2 separate regions of the Homo sapiens genome follow, and region 2 is linked to region 1. Evidence: fine-mapped expression QTL. Tissue or cell type: whole blood. Region 1 holds a variant in brackets; the other region holds the start of a gene. All regions are shown on one strand. Distances are from middle to middle.

Evidence for each region. PIP is the estimated chance that this variant, and not a neighbour inherited with it, causes the effect.
Region 2: PIGU starts here. The variant in region 1 is fine-mapped to the expression of PIGU in whole blood (INTERVAL, PIP 0.96).

Annotation. Positions count from the first base shown.
Region 1 is chr20:33,910,635-33,918,754 of GRCh38, reverse strand. It overlaps the pseudogene TPM3P2. Among named protein-coding and RNA genes, the nearest start is that of RALY, 79 kb to the left of the region's middle. The variant T/A (reference allele first, on the strand shown) is at 4,879.
Region 2 is chr20:34,673,486-34,681,605 of GRCh38, reverse strand. It overlaps PIGU (phosphatidylinositol glycan anchor biosynthesis class U), which reads left to right and starts at 4,514. Exons shown (of 12, transcript NM_080476.5): 1 at 4,514-4,650. The coding sequence starts at 4,521. RefSeq lists enhancers at 3,274-4,159, 4,160-5,046 and silencers at 4,445-4,554, 4,795-4,894.

The DNA of each region.
Region 1 (8,120 bases):
AGAAATCTAGAGGTGACTCAAGTCATTCCCGTCCTCTTACTCCAAAAGTGGGAAAGAGGGCCTGGCTGGTCCCTTCAAGGGTGAGGAGGAGGATAGAGAATTGCTATGGTGGGCGAAAGGCAAATGCCAACACTTCCAGTTCTATTAGGTTGGTGCAAAAGTAATCACAGTTTTTGCCATTAAAAGTAATGGCAAAAACAAAAACTGTGATTACTTTTGCACCAACCTAATATAATCCTTCAGAAAGTCCCCACTCTGTAGACTATCTTCCCCACCCTGTCCCCCAGCATGTGACTGGGACATTGGGCAGGATGGCTAGCCAGCCACGTGGGTGAGAGAACACAATCCCAAGGGGAAAGGGAGCTGGGCTTCTGGTCCCTGTACCACCTGTGTCTTGCTGTGTGACTCTGGATATGTCCACACCCCTCTGTGGTTCTCAGTTTCAGTGTGTAAAGTGAAAGCGTTGGTAAAGCATTGGTGCTGCCGTGGATGGTGATGATGATGATGATGGCGGTGGTGGCCAACTCTTTTTGAGTGCTTACTCTGTGCCAGGAACTCTTCTAAGTGCTTTTCAAGCATAAATGCATTGATTCATTTTATTCTTCCAGCACGATTATAATCCCCATTGTACGAATGAGGAAATGAAGGCAAGAGAAGCAAAGTTACTTGGCTGAGGTCACAGTGATAACAGGCAGAGCTGGAATTCAAATGCAAGCAGTCTGGCTCCAGACCACTCCCTGGAATCACTTGGGGAGCTTTAAAATATCAGATTCCTGGATCCACCCCAGACCTGCTGGATCAGAGCCTCTTGCTAACAAGCTCTCAGGGCTGAAGGCAGGGATTAGGGCTGAGGGTTCCATGGGGACAGACATTGCCTGGGTCTAGCCCAAGAGACAGTGGACCCTGATTCTTCCCCCACCTGCCCCAGCACTGATGTTCCCTGGGTTTGGGGGTGACTGACCCTTTTGGAGACAACCTGCAGGGTGTACCCAGATTATTCCCACCCTCTCACACATGACCTGGAGGGAGCAGGCTCCAACTTCCTCATGCCCTCCCTGGAGTCCTCAGAAAGGGTCCCAGCAGGACCTACCTGTTACACAGGTAATAAATGACCCTAAGAAAAGATACTAAACCTCTCTAGCAACCCAATGTCTTAGTTCGTTTTCTCTTGCTTATCACAGAGTACTTGAAACAGAGTAATTTGCAAAGAAAAGGGATTGACTTCTTACAAGTGTGGAAGCTGAGTAGCCCAAGGTTAAGGGCTTGCATCTACTGAGAAGCTTCTGGCTGGTGGAGACTCTCTTCAGTGTCCCAAGGCAGTGTAGGGCATCACACATGGTGAGGGGGCTGAGCGTGCTAGCTTAAGTCTTTCTTCCTCTTCTTCTTCTTCTTTTTTAAAAAAATTAGAGATGAAGTCTCACTATGCTGCCCAGGCTGGTCTCAAACTCCTGGGCTCAAGCAATCCTCTATCCTCGGCCTCTCAAAGTGCTGGGATTACAGATGCAAGCCACCACGCTCATCCCTCTCTTCCTCTTCTTATAAAGCCACCAGTTTTACTCCCATGATAATCCAGTAATCCACTAACCTATGAATCCATGAATAGATTAATCCATTCATAAGGGCAGAGCCCTCATGACCCAATCACCTCTTAAAGGCCCTACCTCTCAATATTGCCACATTGGTGATTAAATTTCAACATGAGTTTTGCAGGGGACAAATATTCAAACCACAGCACTCAGCAAATGGGAGTTAATGCAATAAGAAAACGCCCTGGAAGGTTCTCAAGAGGGAAGGGCTGTAGTCAGACACCTTCCTAATCAAATTCATCCCTGCTCCATTTGGAATTTGAATGTACTCGAGTGCTCACAGGAGCTAAATTATTCTTTTTGTACATATGGTAATGACAGTATTAGGCCCACAAATATCTTGGTATGTGGTTATTTTTTAAAAGGACAACATACTGTCAAGCTAGATACCAACAATCAGTAATCGCTCAAGTAATCACTTTTTAAAACTTCAGTCTAAAAAAGAGTTCAATAATTACTGCTATCCGCAATAAGAATGAATCTCATAGACTCAGTGAATGGGCAAAACAAGCCAGACACAGAAAGCTAGATACCAGATGATTCCATTTATATGAAATGCAAGAACAGACAAAACCAATCTATGGTGATAGAAGTCAGGATAATGGTTATTTTTGAGGAGCGTTGACTGGAAGGGAAACTTTTAGGGAGGTGGAATGACCTGTGTCTTGACCTGGGTTGGAATTACACAGGTGTACACAAAGTAAAGATTCACTGAGTTGTACATGTATAACTTATGCACTGTACTATGTGCAATTCATGCCTTAAAAATGTTTTAAAGAGTTGGATTGTTTCTTTCTGGTTATCCATGTCTTTCGTTAACATTCAGATAGTGACTGAGAACTGACTGAGCGCTTACAATGTACACACCCACTCAAGTGGGGCAAGTGGCAGAAACAAGGGAAGGTTAGGCCTTGGCTTAGCCAGCACTGGACTCTGGACTTACAAGGCTTACAGCTGGAGGGGGCTACCAAGGCCAACTGTGCTTGATGCCATTGAGACTCCCACTCCCACACATAGTCCAAAAGAGCCAAGGCCAGGCCTGCGCAGCCTGCTCCACTGGGGGAGTGAACCACTCAGAAGGCAGCTGAACGGACTGGGAATAGGAGAAGCTATTAGCAGCTACCCTGGCCACGGGGCCCTGCAGGATCAAAGATGAGAACTGATCGGGCCCACAGGGCAAGGGGGAGGCCAGAGCCAGCAGGAAGGATAATTAGGAAAGACATCAGGCCAGGCTGGACAATGGAGGCTCAGAGATGTCAGGATTCTCACTCCCTGTTGGGACCACATGGCAGGAGGCAAGGGCTCCCCCTGGGGGCCAGGCAGGTAATGGACAATGGTCCCCAGATAAGAGACCAGAGACGTCCAGTTCATGCCCAACATTTCACAGCAAGTCAGGGACTCAGCCAGGACAAGACCCCACACATCCTGCACTCTATAGGCTTCTCCCCACCATCCCAGCAACACCCCAAGGTGATGTTTATTTCCTACCCTGAATGTTCCACATTCTACGTTCCCTGCATTTTCAGCTCTTTTTTTTTTTTAAGACTTAATTCTTGATTCTTTTGACAGCTTACATCATCCTGAAAGTAAAGTGAAAAAGCCATACCACACTACCCACTTTTAATACAGATCTTTGTAGATTGGGAAGCATAAACCAACCAAAAGAGTGATAATTAGTTCTGAATTCAAGTGAGGTTTATGGAATGTGAACCATTTGGGTAATCGGCTGGGGTGGTGCCATGAAGTGGTAATTAATTTGTTTTTTTCCCTAAAATGTTTTACTTAATTAAGGGAGGTGTTGATTTATATACACCTGTCCCCTGGGGATGGTTTGTAAGGCAGGAGAAAATTCCAACTGTCTCCCCGCCACGTTTCTCATCAAATTATTTCATTACATTCAGATACACTTTTGCAGCACTGATTGTGACAGATTCTGGAGTTATGAGCTCATAAATACTGGGGGGTGGGGGGAAGCTGGAGATGCACACTTAATGGGAAATGTTCTCATAATCAAAAGAATATTTCAAGCTGTGACAATGCAGGCCAAGAGAGGGAGGGGGAGCCACTTCAAAGAATAACAGGATGCTGAATAACCCAGCACCTGCAGCTCTGCCTCCTTCTGAGTCAGCTGGGCTCTCAAATATCAGCTTGCGAAGGGCGAATGTCAGGAGGATTTGTAGCTAGTCCTGGGTTCTTTGTCATAACTTACTTGGAGCTGATAGTAGCTTAAGTTTGTTCATTTACTTAACAAATATTTATTAAGCAGCTACTATGTGCTGGGCACTGTGCTACACACTGGGAATACAATAGTGAACAAGACAAGTTTGTTTCCTACCTTCATGGAACTTACAGTCCAGGAAGAGAAAAAAATATAAACAAGTAAAAGAATAAATAGCTGATAAACATATGCCTACTCGATGATCTAGCAATTCTACTCTCAGGCATATATCCAAAATAAATGAGTGCATCTCTCCATGGAAAGACGTGTAAAAATGTTCACAGCGGTGTTATTCAACAGCAACCAGTCAGAAGCAACCCATGGTCGGCCAGCAGAAGAATGAATAAATGAATTGTGTTATACTGACACAATGGAACACTGCTGTGCAATGGGGTATTGCTATGCAGTACTCCATGCAACAGCAATATAAAAAGAACAAACTGCTGTTGCATTTATCCACATGCAAAAATGTGGCTGTATCTCACAGACAATGATGAATGAAAGAATTTAGGCAAAAAGTGTCCAAATTACACGATTCCACTTACATGAAGCTCAAAGGCAGGCAAAACTCATCTATGACAGAAACCAAATAGAAATTAGAATAGTGGCTACCTTTGAGAAGAAGAGACATGAGGGAGCTTTCTGGGGTGTCTGGGAACCTTCTATGTCCAGATATGGGGAACGGTTACAAGCACACATGTGTAAAAAGTCATAGAGGCCAGGTGCGGTGGCTCACGCCTGTAATCCTAGCACTTTGGGAGGCCAAGGCAGGTGGATCACCTGATGTCAGGAGTTCGAAACCAGACTGACAACATGGTGAAACCCCATCTCTACTAAATACAAAAAATTAGCCGGGCGTGGTGGCACATGCTTGTAATTCCAGCTACTTCGGAGGCTGAGGCAGGATGATCACTTGATCCTGGGAGGCAGAGGTTGCAGTGAGCCGAGATTGCACTATTGCATCTCAGCCTGGGCAACAGAATCAAAACTCTCTTTCTCAAAAAAAAAAAAAGTCATTGAGCTATACACTTAATATTATACTTCAATTAAAGCACGCATTTTAATGAGATCCAA[T/A]ACATTTTAAAAATAATAAATAGCTAAGATAATTTCACATGTTGATGAAAGATGTGAAGAAAATAAAACCAGGCCACAGGATGGGGAGCAAAGACCCTTCCGCAGAGATAGCTTTGAGATGCCACCTTTTCTGGAGGTGGCCCATGGGAAAACCTGAGGAATAAGCATTCAAGATAAGGAAGCCGCAAGGTCACTGGCTTCAAGGTGGGGCATCTGGGCATGTCTGAGCAACAGCACGGATACCAGGATAGCTGGAGTGGGAGAGTAGAAGAGGCCAGGGGGACTGTCAGGAGCTGGCCAACCCTATGGGCCACATAAGGATTCGGGTTTTATTCTAAGCATGATATGAGCCATTGGAAAGTGGAAGCAAAGAAATGGCATGACCCAACTGACCTGATTTTTTAAAACTGAGGCTACCTATTGGAATGTGGGGGGGGGGGAAACTGACAGTAGGAGAAACGGCTGCAGTGCTGAGTGGAGAGGCAGGACCTGGAGCACAAGCAGGGGCTGGGTGGGCACCGTGGCTGGGATCGCCACCATCAAGGCAGTAAAGCGCAAGAGCCAGGTTCAGCAGCAGCAGGCAGATGATGCAGAGGAGAGAGCTAAGCGCCTCCAGCGGGGAGTAGAGGGAGCAAGGTGGGCCCGGAACAGGCTGAGGCCAAGGTGGCCTCCTTGAACCATAGGATCCAGCTGGTTGAAAAGGAGCTGGACAGTGCTCAGGCGTGCCTGGCCACTGCTCTGCAAAAGCTGGAAGAAGTGGTAAAAGCTGCTGATTGAGAGTGGGAGAGGTAGGAAGGTTATTGAAAATCGAGCCTTAAAAGATGAAGAAAAGGCTGGGCGCGATGGCTCATGCCTGTAATCCTAGCACTTTGGGAGGCCGAAGTGGGTGGATCACCTGAGGTCAGGAGTTCAAGACCAGCCTGGCCAACACGGTAAAACTACTAAAAATACAAAAATTAGTCGGGTATGGTGGTGCGCACCTGTAATCCCAGCTACCCGGGAGGCTGAGGCAGGAGAATCACTTGAACCCAGAGGGCAAAGGTTGCAGTGAGCTGAGATTGCACCACTGCACTCCAGTGGGTGACAGAGGGAGACTCTGTCTCAAAAAAAAAAAAAAAAAGATGAAACTCCAGGAAATCCAACTCAAAGAAGCTAAGCACATTGCAGAAGATAGGTAGGAAGCATGAAGATGGGGCTCGGCTCATAAGTTGGTGGTTGTTGAAGGAAACTTGGGACGCAGAGAGGAACAACCTGAGCTGGCAGAGTCCTGTGGCTGAGAGATGGAGGAGCAGATCAGATCGATGGACCAGAACCTGAAGTGGCTGAGTGCTGCCGAAGAAAAGGACTCTCAAAAAGAAGACAGATATGAGGAAGCAACTGAGATTCTTACTGATAAACGCAAGGAGGCAGAGACCCGGGCTGAGTTTGCCGAGAGATCGGTAGCCAAGCTGGAAGAGACAATTGATGACTTGGAAGATAAACTGAAATGCACCAAGGAGGAGCACCTCTGTACACAAAGGATGCCAGACCAGACCTGCTTAACTGAATGAGATGCAGAGCACCCCAGTCCCACCTTGCCACTGCTCCTCCCTCTGACCCCAACTCCAACTAGGCCAGCCTGCCCAAAGCTGCCCTTTAACTGAGGGTTGATCTTTAACTGGAAGGCTGCTTTCTCCTTTCACCACCCCTACCTCCCCCACGTGTCTTTTTTGCCAAACTGTCTCTGCCTCTTCCCAGAGATTCCAGCTGCGCTAGAGGCTGAGCACCTTTGGGAACAACATTTAAGCGAATGTGAGTGCAACACATAATGTCTTTAAAAGCATGTTGTGTTGTATACATTTAGTAATTACCTTTTTTGTTGTTTTATAGCAACCATTTGTAAAACATTCCAAATAGTTCCACAGCTCTGAAGCAGCAATCTAATCCCTTTCTCCCTTTTGGAAGGTGACTGTTTAGCTTACTGTATATTGCTTTCTCTAGAAAAAAGGGAAAAAGGTATGAGCCTGCCTTACTGAGAACCAAACAGAGCCCGGGGAAAGACTCCACTCTGGGAAATCATAGCTTTGCACAAAGTACCAGCCAAACCAGAAAGGTGATTCCAGGAGTTAGCCCAAAAACAACAGCAACAAAAAATGTGCTGTTCAGGTTTTCAGCTTTAAGATATCTTTGGACAAAGTTATTTTTACTTTTTTGTTTTTTCATTAGAAGTGACCAAATTAAGCCAGGCGCAGTGGCTCACGCCTGTAATCCCAGCACTTTGGGAGGCTGAGGCAGGCGGATCACTTGAGGTCAGGAGTTCAAGACCAGCCTGGCCAACATGGTGAAACCCTGTCTCTACTAAAAATACAAAAATTAGCCAGGCATGGTGGTGGGCGTCTGCAGTCCCAGCTATTCAGGAGGCTGAGGCAGGAGAATCACTTGAACCTGGGAGGCGGAGGTTGCAGTGAGCCAAGATCGCGCCACTGCACTTCAGCCTGGGCGACACAGCAAGACTCCATCTGGGACAAAAAAAAAAAAAAAAAAGAAGTGACCAAATTAAGACGGTGAGACCTCTGAGACCAAATTTCTGTCCCATCTCCACCCCATTCCCAGCCGCTTACAGAGTGGATCATGTGCCCCTTACATTGAGGTGACCACTTGATTGCTCTCCTGCCTCCTTGAAAGAAAGAAGATTATGTTTTTGCCACTGATTTAGCCACATGAAACTCATCTCATCACCCTTTTCTGGGTTTGAAGCTGCTGTCTCTAAAAGTGCCATGTCATTGTGCTTTGTATCAGTCAGTGAGAAATCTTGAATAGCTTGTGTACAAAACTTTTTAAATGTCATATTATTTTGAAACTTTGCTTCTTTGGGTTTCTGGCACCCTGGCTACCCCCTCTGGCTGTGAGAGCTCTCCACAGTCTGTAGGCTGGCAGGTTGCTGATCTTTTAAAGTTTCTTTCCCTACCTAATCCCCACTTTTTGGTAAAGTTTCTAGGAGGTCTGTTAGGCGTACAAACTGCAGCTTATTGGCTTACAATGTACTCTCCTTTGATGCCTCTTTGACGACAACTGGGAGAAAAAGAAATCAATAGTGCAACTGTTTTGATACTGAAGACTGATGAGTGTCTTTTTGAAATAAAGAACCAGGCCACGCATGATCGCTCATGCCTATAATCTCTGCACTTTGGGAGGCCAAAGCAAGTGGATCACTTGGGGCCAGGAGTTTGAGACCAGCCTGGCCAACATGGTGAAACCCCATC
Region 2 (8,120 bases), 760 kb before region 1:
TCCAAAGTGCTGGGATTACAGGCGTGAGCCACCGCGCCCAGTCTTTAAATTTTTTTTTTTTTTTTGAGACAGAGTCCTGCTCTGGTGCCCAGACTGGAGTGCAGTGGCACCATCTCGGCTCAATGCAACATTAGCTCCTGGGTTCAAGCAATTCTCCCGTCTCAGCCTCCCGATAGCTGGGATTGCAGGTGCCCGCCACCATTCCTGGCTAACTTTTATATTTTTAGTAGAGGCGGGGTTTCACCGTGTTGGCCAGGATGGTCTCAAACTCCTGACCTCAAGTGATCTGCCCACCTCGGCCTCCCAAAGTGCTGGGATTACAGACATGAGCCACCGTGCCCAGCAGTTTTCATTTCTTGATGGTGTCCTTTGGAACACAGAAGTTTTTAATTTTGACAAAGCTCAATTTACTTATTTCTCCTTTTGTTGCCTGTGCTTTTGGTGTTGTTATCTAAGAAACCATTGCCTAATTAAAGGTCATAAAAGTTTACTCCTATGTTTTCTTTTATGAGTTTTATAATTCTAGCTTCTGTATTTGGGTCTTGTGTTTTTTTATTGAGAACCACTAGTTGTATTCATACTTCATGCACACTCATTTTGAGAACCACTGGTTTGGGTCACATCTGTCTACAATGGCTAATCACTGTTTTTCCCAAAGACAATCCTCACCCTAAGATAAATTTTTAAGTCATCTGTTAGAATGATGTAAATAATATAACAGCTAAGTAACCTTTACTGAGCACTGGGTATGTGCTAAGCATTTTACATTGTATAACCTTGCTCAATATTCACTATGAGGTTAGTGTTACAATTACTTCCACTTTTTATGATGTAATACACTTCACTGTAAGATGATGCAACACATATATCTCCTTTTATGTAAAAGGGGATACAAAAACCCACATCTTTAAGAAGGAAGGCTGTGCAGACTAAATAAGCTCATGTGTGTTAAGCATATGGTACACTACTTGGCACACAGCAGGGGCTCAAAGGATGAGTGCCCCTCTAATTTCTTCATGATCCCCTCCCCCAAAGGAGACCCTACCCCTTTCACTGGTCCAGAAAGCTATCAGCCCCAGGGTTTATTTTTGCATTCTTTTAGAATCCCACTCCCATTTTTTTCTTTTTCTTTTTTCTTTTTTTTTGAGACAGTCTTGCTCTGTCGCCCAGGCTGGAGTGCAGTGGTGCAATCTCGGCTCACTGCAACCGCCGATCCTCGGGTCGAAGTGACTCTCCTGTCTCAGCCTCCCAAGTAGCTGGGATTACAGGTGCCCGCCACCTTGCCCAGCTAAATTTTTTGTATTTTTAGTAGAGACGGGGTTTCACCATGTTGGCCAGGCTGGTCTCGAACTCCTGACCTCAAGTGATCTGCCTGCCTCGGCCTCCCAAAGTGCTGAGATTACAGGTGTGAGCCACTGCGCCCGGCCATTTTTTTTCTTTTTTCTTTTTTTTTTTTTTTGAGGCAAGGTCTTGCTTTGTCGTACAGGCCTGAGAGCAGCGGCGTGATCTTGGCTCGCTGCAGCTTCAACCTCCCAGGCTCAAGTGATTCTCCCACCTCAGCCTTCCCAGTAGCTGAGACTACAGGCATGCGCCACCATGCCTGGGTAATTCTTATGTTTTCTGTAGAGACAGGTTTCACCATGTTGCCCAGGCTGGTCTCAAACTCCTGGGCTCAAGCAATCCTCCCGCCATGGCCTCTCAAAGTGCTGAGATTACAGGCGTGAGCCACTGCGCCTGGCCCACTCCCCCTTTTCTTTCTCTCATTAAGGTTTGTGATTTTTTTTTTTTTTTTTTGAGACGGAGTCTTGCTCTGTCGCCCAGGCTGGAGTTATGGTTTGTGATTTTACTTATGTTATTCTTTAACTATTTTATCTCTTCAACTGCTTTCCAAGTTACATAAGGGCAAAGGCAGATGGTGCCATTTTGTCACTGCAATATTCCCCAACACCCAATAGAGGGCTTGTGGGAATATAGAGATGTTTGAAAAATGTACACCTGTTCACATCATTTCTGGTTTAAAATTCTCCAATGGCATATGGATTGCACTTTGAATAAAGCCCAAATTCTCAAGCATGGCCAATAGGTCCCTACCTGATTGCCCCCCGTCTCTCCATCCACAGCTTCTTCTATTCTCTCCACTTGAGCCATACTTGTTTTCTTTCTGATCCTCAAACATACCTTGCTCTTTCCCCACTCAGTCCGTTCCTTCTGCTTGGAGGCTCTGATTAATTTCTCATCCTTTAGGTCTCAGCTCAAATATCACCTCTTTCTAGAGTCTTCCCTGATCACCTTGTCTAGTGTTACCACCCTTATTATTACACCAGCAGTTATTCTCAGTCATACACTGTTTCGTTTTCTTTCTTCTCTCTCTTTCTTTTTTTGAGACAGAGTCTGGCTCTGTCGCCCAGGCTGGAGTGCAATGGCGCTATCTTGGCTCGCTGTAGCCTCCGCCTCCCAGGTTCAAGTGATTCTCTTGCCTCAGCCTCCTGAGTAGCTGGGACTGCAGGCACAGGCCACCATGCCTGGCTAATTTTTGTAATTTTAATAGAGACGAGGTTTCACCATGTTGGGCAGGCTGGTTTCAAACTCCTGACCTCAAGTGATCCGGCTGCTTCGGCCTTCCAAAGTGCTGGGATTACAGGCGTGAGCCACTGCGTCCAGCCTGTTTCCTTTTCTTCACAAATATGAAATTTCCTTGCACATTTAATATTATTATTGCTAATATTTAAGCACTTACTATACATTAATTAATGAAGTGTGCTGCTTAATGCTTATCAATGGGCTCTCCAAACCCCAAACCCCTGATTTGTAGTGTTTGCTGATTCCTGTGGTGTAAACACTCGCATTGGGAGGGATTTTCAATCTATCAACCTGAGGAAACTGAACACCACCATTTGGGAAGAGAAAGAGATAGTATTTGCTGTACTGATACAGCGGTGGTAAATAATCTCAAAAGCACATATAAAAAAAAGTGTAGTAAAATAATTAGAAAGTGACGTGTTGAATATGTATTCCGTTGTTTTCAATATAAGTTATTTAACTGTAGGTTTATATGTCTTAATTTTCAAAAATGCCTGTGTTTAAAAGCGACTGGCAAAATTTCTAAGCCTTCCGGCCAGGCACGATGACACAAGCCTGTAATCCCAGCACTTTGGGAGGCCGAGGCAGGCAGGTGGATCGCCTGAAGTCTGGAGTTCGAGACCAGCCTGACCAACATAGAGAAACCCTGTCTCTACTAAAATTACAAAAAATTAGCCGGGCGTGATGGCGCATGCATGTAATCCCAGCTACTCGGGAGGCTGAGGCAGGAGAATCGCTTGAACCTGGGAGTCGGAGGTTGCAGTGAGCTGAGATCGCGCCATTGCACTCCAACCCGGGCAATAAGAGCGAAACTCCGTTTCCAAAACAAAAAAAAAATTTCTAAGCCTTCCTCAACTGTCCCTAGTTAGCCTATAATCAGCACATTTTTCAGCACACAAGGGTTAAGCGACTTGTTGAACTAGCTAATAAATCAGTCTACTACTCCAAAACGCATCTGTAGAACCTAACATAGTGCCTGGAAAATAGTTGGCGTTTAACAAACAACTGCCAGAATAAATTTTTTAAAAAATACACATTTAACACTCTTTAAAAACATAAAAGGTACCAGCCTGGGCAACATGGCGAAACCCCGTCTCTACTAAAAGTACAAAAACTTAGCCGGGTGTGGTGGCGCGCACCTGTGGTCCCAGCTACTCTGGAGCCCGGGAGGTCCAGGCTGCAGTGAGCTGAGATTGCGCCACTGCACTCCAGCCTGGGCGACGGCACTGAGACCCTGTCTCAAAAACAAAAAACATAAACATTTTGGGCAGGGTGCGGTGGCTCACGCCTGTAATCCCAGCATTTTGGGAAGCCGAGGCGGGCGGATCACCTGAGGTCAGGAGTTCGAGACCAACCTGGCCAACATGGTGAAACCCCATCTCTACTAAAAATACAAAAAAAAAAAAAAAAAAAAAATAGCCGCGCGTGGTGGTGGGCGCCTGTCATCCCAGCTACCCAGGAGGCGGAAGTTGCAGTGAGCCAAGATCGCGCCACTGCACTCCAGCCGGACGACAGAGCGAGACTCCGTCTCAAAAAAAATAAAAATAAAAATAAAAATAAACATTTTGGCATTGAAAACATACACGCAAGAGTGAATTTAACATCTGTTTAAAAGTCTCTCACAATCCCAGGAAGGCGACTACTTCCGCTTCTACTTTCAGCAGCGTTTCAGCCCCGCTATAGCGGCGCGGCTTCACAAAACACCTGCGATCGTAGAAGGTTTCGCCCCACCTTCTGCATACGCAGCTTGAGGCGCCCGCTTTCCGTCGCTCCGGCCCGCCTCGCCGCAAGGCTTTCTGGGAGCCGTAGTCCCCACGTCTGGCCTCTCCGGCGCCAGCGGCAGCGCGCGCCCACCCGCGGAACTACAGAGCGTGGCGCACAGCGCGCGAGGCTCCTCCGCCTCGCCTTCCCTCCCCGCCCGCGCGCCCGCCCCAGTTATCATGGCGGCTCCCTTGGTCCTGGTGCTGGTGGTGGCTGTGACAGTGCGGGCGGCCTTGTTCCGCTCCAGTCTGGCCGAGTTCATTTCCGAGCGGGTGGAGGTGGTGTCCCCACTGAGCTCTTGGAAGAGAGGTGAGGCCACTGGCTCGAGCAGACTGTCAGGCCCCACCTGCCCTCCCGCGGCCTCTGTGAATGGGAGGCGGGGGCAGTGACCGCCAGCGCGCGGTTCCTAGAGAACTAACTGACTGTCTCGTGGGGTTCTTGGAGAGGGCGGGGCCTGAGGGCGGGGCTGGTGAGGGGAGGGGGCGTGGGGACCGGGGCGTGGGGACAGTGTCGTGAGGTTTGGGCCCTGGGGGCCGGACCACCTAGTGGTGGGGATCTGAGGGGGCGTGTCCCATTCAGTGTCCTGAGCCGAGGAGTGTGGTCTGTGGGAAGGGTTGGAATAAGAGGAGGAGGTGCTTGTGGAGCGCGGCTTGCAGAGGAGTTTGGGATTTGGGGCGGGATCGCCAGGGGTGCTCCCTGGGATAAAAGGTTATGTGTGAGGGGGTCCGGGATGAGGGGACCAATTTTGCTTAAGCGAGGAGAGTGTGCGTGTGCTTTAGACGTCTCTTCTCAGTCTGGGACTTGCAGGGCAATTTTTGTTACTGTTCCTTACTAAGTTCTTCACCGAACATTGTTTTATACTAACGCCTACAGCGAGAAAGCGAAGTTGGCCTGAAGTAGCTGCACAGGCTAGTGAGGGAGACAAATCGTTATAATAATTCATGAAAAGTATACTTTATGTGTCCACCCAGTTCCTTCCTTAGTATTCTGACCCTGAATAAACTATCCCCTACCTTTCCAGTTTTCCAGAATGTGGGATTTGAGCTGACTCTTGAAGGATGTAGGGTTTTGAAAGGGAGATTAGAGAAAAGGAGAGTTCCAGGTAGCAGAAAGTAAATAGGATGAAGAAACGTTCAAGGATGTGAAATGTCCAAAGCAGGGGAGTAATGGGGTGGAAGCTAGGTTTAGGCCAGAGTTTGATGATTAAAAAAAAACAAACAACTTTTTTTTTTTTTTTTTTACTGAAGTACAGTATACATACAATGCATATTAAGTAAGTGTAGAGTTCAATGAATTTTTAAAAACTGTATTCACTCATGTAGCCAGCACCTAGTTCAAGAAACAGTATCAGCACCCCAGAAGTCCCCTTTGTGTCCTTTAAATGCTAAAGTTTTTTTGTTTTTGTTTTTGTTTTTTGTTTAGAGACAGGGTCTTTCTATGTTGCCCAGGCTGGTCTGGAACTCCTGGACTCAAGCAGTCTCACTTGGCCTCCCAAAGTGCTGGGATTTCAGGCGTGAGCCATGGCACCTGGCCAAGGCTAACGTTTTGATGTTATCCCATAGAATGTTGGTATGGGGAACGGCATAATGAATGGGTGTTTTATGAATAGAGTTAAGGTTTCTAAAAATGGTAACATATACCTTTTCTCATTTAGTCCTCACATTTATTTCTATGTGATAGATGGTGTTATTTTCCCCCTTTTACAGATGAGGGAACTGAAATTTAGAGAAGTTAATTTGCCCAGGTTTCCTAGTTGGGGAATGGTAATAAAGATAGTAATAATTCATGTCTGAGATTGTAAGAGCTTGGATTTGTTACCTCTGCGTATTATTTTTCTGTTGAAATGAATCGAAGCCATTTGGTTCCTGTTTTCTTCTGGATAACTGAAAACCTGAGGCAGTATTAGGCCCTTCTTCCTCTACACCCTACTAAGAGCATTTCTTATCTCATAATTACCTGTTTATATCCGGTTTTTCCACATTTTCTCTCTCTCTCTTTTTTTTTTTTTTTTTTTTTGAGATGGAGTTTCACTCTCATTGCCCTAGCTGGAGTGCAATGGTGCGATCTCGGCTCACCATAACCTCCGCCCCCTGGGTTCAAGCAATTCTTCTGCCTCAGCCTCCTGGGCAGCTGGGATTACAGGCATGCACCACCATGCCTGGCTAATTTTGTATTTTTAGTAGAGACAGGGGTTCTCCATGTTGGTCAGGCTGGTCTTGAACTCCCGACCTCAGGTGATCTGCCTTCCTCGGCCTCCCAAAGTGCTGGGATTACAGGTGTGAGCCGCCATGCCTGGCCTCTTTTTTTTTTTTTTTTTCTTCAAGAGACAGGGTCTCACTCTGACACTCAGGCTGGAGTGCAGTGATAATGGGTCACTGCAGCCTTGACCTCTCGGGCTCAGGACATCCTCCCTCCTCAGCCTCCCAAGTAGTTGGTAGCTGGGACTACAGGCATGTACCACCAACCCTACTTGTTATTATTATTATTTTTTTGTATTTTTTGTAGAGATGGGGTTTCACCATGTTGCTTAGGCTGGTCTCAAACTCCTGGGCTCAAGTGATCCGCCCATCTGGGTCTCTCAAAGTGCTGGGATTACAGGCATAAGCTACCACACCTGGCCTTTTCCACTATATTATGAGCTCCTTGAAGGATTCTGTTTTATTCATTCCTGAATTCTTTTATGTCTGGCATACAGTAGGTGTGTAGTTACTGTTGAATAAATGTGGAAGAGAAGAAAGCATAGGATCTGGTTACTTACAGGAGGTTACTTACAGGATGGACAGGTGAAGGATCCAAAGATGAGACAGTGTTGTTTGGTAATTAAGAGTGCAGGGTCTGGAATCTCAGAAAAGGTTTGACTCTTTCTCTAGTTCTGCAACTTATAAGCTGTATGAATTCTTTTTTTTTTTGAGACAGAATTTTGCTCTTGTTGCCCAGGCTGGAGTGCAATGGCGCGATCTCGGCTCACTGCAACCTCCGCCTCCCAGGTTCAGGCTGTTATCTCGTCTCAGCCTCTTGGGTAGCTGGGATTACAGGTGCCCGCCACCATGCCCAGCTAATTTTTGTATTTTTAGTAGAGATAAGTTTCACCATGTTGGCTAGTCTGGTCTTAAACTCCTGACCTCAGGTGAGCCGCCCGCCTTGACCTGTGAAAGTGCTGGGATTACAGGCATGAGCCACTGCGCCAAGCTTTTTTTGTTGTTGTTGTTTTTGAGATGGAGTCTCAGTCTGTTGCCCAGGCTGGAGTGTAGTGGCATGATCTTGGCTCACTGCAACCTCTGCCTCCCAGGTTCAAGCGATTCTTCTGCCTCAGCCTCCCAAGTAGCTGGGACTACAGGCACATGCCACCATGCCTGGCTAATTTTTGTATTTTTAGTAGACACGAGGTTTCACCATATTAGCCAGGCTGGTCTTGATCTCCTGACCTCGTGATCCGCCCGCCTTGGCCTCCCAAAGTGCTGGGATTACAGGCGTGAGCCACCACGCCCGGCCAAGCTGTATGAATTCTAACGTCAGTGTTTCCATCTGTAAAATAGGAAATTATGTATCCTGTTCAACGAGATAATCCATGTTGAAGCTCAACACAATAATGAAAGCCAAAAAGGTGAATTCTAAGGTTTTGAGTTGAGATATTAGGAAAAATAGTGCTGACATGGGCTGAAATAGATGAATCAGAAAGGACATAGTAGTGTTTCATGTGTGTATAATGTGATAGTACAATACTGACAGGTTTAGGTCTGGAGCTTGAGGCCAGTGTCAGGACTAGAAAGAGAGAGAGA